Regions from separate parts of the Homo sapiens genome. Here region 1 is linked to region 2. The links come from fine-mapping of genetic effects on plasma protein levels. A gene starts in region 2. The other region holds a variant in brackets. All regions are shown on one strand. Distances are between the middles of the regions. Region 1 overlaps LOC124902869 (a long non-coding RNA gene). Region 2 holds the start of C1RL (complement C1r subcomponent like).

Region 1 (3,026 bases), 61 kb before region 2:
GTCAAGGCTGCAGTGAGCTATGATCGTGCCACTGCACTCCAGCCTAGGCTGCAGAGTGAGACCTTGTCTCAAAGAAAAAAAAAAAGAAATTCTGGAATTTGAGTTGGATGTACTGCCCCCATGTTATAATATTAAAAGTAAAATTTCCCATAATTTAGCAAATTAATATCTTATGAAAATTTGGTTTTAGCATGTAGACCATTTTTCAGAAAGTCTATTTTAAATGATTTTGTTTTAATTACAACTAGTTAAATTATACCCAGAATTCCATACATAAATCCCCTTCATAAACCTTATCATGACTTACACAGACCATACAATATGCTTGGACTTTTTGACTTGTCTTATACTATCTCTTTCTTACATAACGAGTCATTTTATTTTAGGACAAGAATTTACAAGATCCCTCTTCATACAAAATTATTCTTTATATTTTTACTTGCCAAAAATCTTTTAATCTGTAATTTTTTATATAATTTTTTTAACTTACTGGCTCCCTCATATTTTGAACCTCTCAATAATTTTTAAATTAAACAAAAACTATTATTATTATTCCCCAATAAAGAATATAATTTTTGTCATATTTTATATAAACCAAGGATGTAAGAAATCCTGCACTGCCCATGAAACACTGACATTTTATAGATGAGAACCATTGCACAATTTCAAGATTTTAAACCACACAAAAAGTTCACTGTTTAAGTATCTATTATATTTAGATGTTGGGAACAGGCCCCCCAAAATCTGGCCATAAACTGGCCCCAAAACTGGCCATAAACAAAATCTCTGCAGCACTGTGACATATTCATGATGGCCATAACACCCATGCTGGAAGGTTGTGGGTTTACCAGAATGAGGGCAAGGAACACCTGGCCTGCCTAGGGCGGAAAACTGCTTAAAGGCATTCTTACACCACAAACAATAGCATGAGCGATCTGTGCCTTAAGGACATGCTCCTGCTGCAGATAACTAGCCCAACTCATCCCTTTATTTCAGCCCATCCCTTCGTTTCCCATAAGGGATACTTTTAGTTAATCTAATATCTATAGGAACAATGCTAATGACTGGCTTGCTGTTAATAAATACATGAGTAAATCTCTGTTCGAGGCTCTCAGCTCTGAAGGCTGTGAAACCCCTCATTTCCCACTTCACATCTCTATATTTCTGTGTGTGTGTGTCTTTAATTTCTCTAGCGCCGCTGGGTTAGGGTCTCCCCAACTGAGCTGGTCTCAGCATTTAGACGTATTTAAGATTTCACTTTTAATAGTTTTATCTAGACTACCACCAAGAACCAAAATAACCACACAAAGCTAGTCACCACTTAAAGCTATTGTAATCATTTTTAAGCCTATGAATATTAATAGTTTATTTAGGTAAAAATCTTAAAGTTAAATTGTAGAAGATACAACATTTTTTTAAAAACTAGTAAGTTTACAATCATCTAATCTGTTTAATTTATGAGCATTCTTTTATAAGGCAATTTGATAGCATGCTAGACACAACACATATTATATGAATGAAGTGACCTATATAAGACAGCTGGATTCAAATTATTTACAAAATTGGGACCATCTATTAGGCCAAAATTTTTTTTGCCCCAGTAGATATGGAAGACAGGAAAAGGCAGGGAAGGAAATCCCATAGCATTAAATAAGGAAGGGAGAAGGCAAACTGCATTGCTCAAGGAAAG[A/G]CCTTGGAGTACCCAGGCTGCCAGAGAGCTCATACAGCAGTGGAGATATTGAAGAAAAATGTTCAGCCAGCCACTTGTCTACCACTGTGGGAAACTGTCCATTGAGTCAGGGTCTAAGACCCCCAGTAAACTTATTTGAGCAAGACAACTAAGTGTAGCTAATGGAAGGTTAGCTCTGTATTGACAGGGAGTTTTTTCCCTATCTCACCAGGGACAGTTAGGACATTCTCATTGCCAGTGGCCCTTTTGCTTATGGTAGACACATATGGGCTCTTGTCTGGGCATCCCAGATGCTGATCTTGTGACACTTTCTTGGGATGGGCAACTTTGAGGTGGCAGGGGGCTTAAAGTAACTGTTAACAATTGAACTTTTGGGCTATTTTTTGTTGTTTTTTTCACCTCTTTTGCCCTGGCCCTATTGTTGTAAACTTTATAGGCCATGTTTAAATGTTGACTTTGGAGGTTTAAAGTCCCATTGCTGCTTTTTGTAGCTTCCTCCTAATGTCAGGGGCAGATTGAGTAGTAAAATGTATACTCAGGAGAGCTTGCCCTTCTGAGGAGTCTGGGTCTGCATTGGTATATTTCCTGAGTGTCTCAAACAAATGACCTTGAAACAGTGGGAATTTTGTCTTTGAGTTATTTCTCTCACCTTGTCATAATTCACTGGCTTAACCACACACCTTTTCTTCTGCTTTTTTTCCACAGCACAGCAAGCAGATGACAATACTTGCAAGACATGATGTGTTAAATTAAAAAACATAGTCTATTTAACAAATTCTTTTATAAATTTTTCTGGATTCTCTGGCCAAATTTTTCCTTGTATAAAACTAAATCACACATAGAAAATGGCACATGTACTCTGTTTCCTCATTTCTATCAGGCACCTCCCTCAATGGACACAGGTTTGATTTTTGGAGCTGATATGGAGCCCTACTCCTGGTGGTACTGGTTGGTACTTTCTCAGGCAGCAGGGTGTATAGGCTGGGGTAGCTGGATAAGAGGAAGGGGTGCCCAATGACCTTGGGTGGAATTCTTCATTAGAGAACTGGCAGGACCCCCCTCAGAACTGGGGGACTGAGGAGACTCCAGGGAGGCCATAGGCCTTCTAGGGGGAGCAGCTAGGAGGGGATCCCTTAGGCACAGCTTCCTGTTACTTAGAAGTAACATGAGCCAATAAAGGACCATAAAAGCCTGTACACAAGGGATCTCCTCTCATTTCCGTTCTTCTTTACAGAATGAGTCTAATCGTAAAATATTATTATAACATATAGAACCATGTTTAGGCCAAATCTATTGGTTTTCTAATTTGTATTGAAACCAAGTGGTATTGCAATAG
Region 2 (2,500 bases):
CTTGGCTCCCTGTCCTCTTTCTCACCCAGCCTCACTCCAGCACTTTAACCCCTATCCATTTAGGGTGACCACCAGTCCTGGCTTGCCCAGAACTTCCCTCATTTTAAAACGGAAAGCCTCATGTCCTGGGAAACCCGTCGGTCCCACGCAAATCAGAACAGTCGGTCACCCTACCTGTCCTGGAGTTTCCTTCCAAGGCCTTACTCCTCCCTCCTCCAGCTCATCTCCAGGAAAGTCTTCTCAGATGGGCTAGCCTGAGTTTTCCAGTTCCTGCCCCTCTTAGCAAACAAGGAAATAATGCTCTGAAGGGAAACGAGGGGTGGACTCCCCAATCCTGATCTGAGTCTTGGCTGGTTTCTTCTTAACACATGGGTCTTGGGATTGGTACCATTGTTCACTCTTTGGCTGCATCTCTGGCTCCCAAGGTGCTCCAGGTGACCCTAAGAGTTCTATGAGAGAGCAGGTTTCAGTGGTCTCAGGGGAGGAAAGAAGTCCTAGTCAGAGAGGCCCACTCCTCGAAGATGGGTATGGGAGATCATCCCCAGTTGTGTTTGGGGTTGGGGTGTGGCAGACAGGTAGGCTTGATCTCAAGACTGTACCTGAGACATTGCATCTGTCCTGGCCATCACTCTCTTATCATCTCCTTGTAGCCATAGACTGTGGCTCTCCTAAATCTCTCTAGCCTAGAAAAACCAAAGATGCAGAGCACACCCTGTTTGGGTCTGTAACTTGCCTCCATATTACTATATGCAAAATGGGGGAAGCAATAGATTCTTCTCTGAGAGGTGTGTGTGCGCGCGCACATGCATTTGTGTGTGCATACAACGTAAGGCCTTCCACACACCTGCCTTCTCTGAGGATGGGACCACCCATCTCCATAAGAGCCTTCTGGCCTCCTACCAAGCTGTGGGTGAGTGTCCTTCCTCGGGGAGCGGTGAGAGCAGGCAGGGGCTCTAGTATCTGCCTAAAGAAGCTTGAGTGACGGCTTGAGTGATGACTGGGACTAGGGACTGAGGGACACCTGGGCTCGACCCCAGCCCTGACCATGCTGGACAAGCAGCCTCCAGAGGTTGTGAATAGGATTCAAAAGACCACCTAAGCGCATGTCCCCCACCCCTGCTTGGGGAGGAGGGAAAGGAAGAGAAAGCTCAAGTTCAAGGATCACAAACTTCAATTCTACAAGAGGGAGGCTCCCCGGGTATGTCGTGAACGGAAAGGTCGGGGAGGAAGAGACATGGCTGATTGAAGGCAGCAGCCATAACTCACAAGGAGCCATCCTACACACATGGCAAAAATTAATGTTAAATAGTACAAAAGGGTCGAGTCAGTGCCCTGCCACCCTGACCTCTGAGGGCCAGCGAGGTTTTTGGACGTTTCTCCCCTAAGCTGCGGCGGGCCCGCTGTTCCTGAGTCAGACGGCAGGTGGCGCTCAGCCCGGAGAATTGGAGAAGGGGAACTGTGGAGTTGCTTAACATTTCCAGGAACTTCCTCCTCCCCCACCGGCCTTCACCTTTTGTTCCCTATCCTGGGCCAGTTCTCTCGCAGGTCCCAGATGTCCAGTTCCAGATGCCTGGACCCAGAGTGTGGGGGAAATATCTCTGGAGAAGCCCTCACTCCAAAGGCTGTCCAGGCGCAATGTGAGTGTGGCCCCGGCAGAGGAGGAGGGAAGAGGACGGGAGGGGAAGAGAAAGGGTGGGTGGCCGCAAACCCTCCCTCCCCCCACCCTACCCCCCCCACACACACATCCCCCCCCCCCCCACACACACACACACACACACACCTCCCCCACATACACACACCAGCAGCAGCAGCAGCAGCAGCACAGCAGATATTCCATGGGGAGACTGAAATTTGCCTGTGGCCTCTAGCACCTTCCCAGAGGGTGGTCGGGGGATATTTACGGCAGACCCTCACTCGCCCCACCATTGCTCCCTCGGATCCCAGGGTGGGGTGGGATCTGCTGAAGCAGAAAGCACCCCCCTCCTTTGGACGAGACTCTCCTGGGAGATGAGCAAAGGTGATGTCTTCGGAGGATGGAAAACCCACAATCCTAGAGCTCAGGCTGCGCGGGAGGCTGTAGGGATTGGGGTGAGGAAGGGGAGCAAGGGAGGAGACGGGAAGTGCCCGGGCCTCAAGGGTGAGGCCACAGCTTCTAGCCCTGCCTCGCGAGGCCTCTGAGTCCTAGCGCGGCTCCCCCGCTCCTCCCACACCCACAGGCTTCCGGCCATAGCTGCGCGGCCCCACCTTGCCCTCCCCCCAACTCACAGGTGGTGGCTGCTTCTCTGGGGAGTCCTCCAGGCTTGCCCAACCCGGGGCTCCGTCCTCTTGGCCCAAGAGCTACCCCAGCAGCTGACATCCCCCGGGTACCCAGAGCCGTATGGCAAAGGCCAAGAGAGCAGCACGGACATCAAGGCTCCAGAGGGCTTTGCTGTGAGGCTCGTCTTCCAGGACTTCGACCTGGAGCCGTCCCAGGACTGTGCAGGGGACTCTGTCACAGTGA

Evidence for each region. PIP is the chance, under the fine-mapping model, that this variant and not a neighbour inherited with it causes the effect. Sun 2018 read protein levels with aptamers (SomaScan).
Region 1: its variant is fine-mapped to the plasma level of the C1RL protein (Sun 2018, PIP 0.95).

The regions. Positions count from the first base shown.
Region 1 is chr12:7,169,297-7,172,322 of GRCh38, reverse strand. The region is part of intron 1 of LOC124902869 (a long non-coding RNA gene); the gene reads left to right. Among named protein-coding and RNA genes, the nearest start is that of PEX5, 19 kb to the left of the region's middle. The variant A/G (reference allele first, on the strand shown) is at 1,691.
Region 2 is chr12:7,108,247-7,110,746 of GRCh38, reverse strand. C1RL (complement C1r subcomponent like) reads left to right here and starts at 1,533. Exons shown (of 6, transcript NM_016546.4): 1 at 1,533-1,637; 2 at 2,268-2,496. The coding sequence starts at 1,567. It overlaps C1RL-AS1 (C1RL antisense RNA 1), which reads right to left and starts at 2,439. Exons shown (of 12, transcript NR_026947.1): 1 at 2,266-2,439; 2 at 1,800-2,074; 3 at 600-683; 4 at 175-449. RefSeq lists enhancers at 1,592-1,671, 2,312-2,481, 1,314-2,500.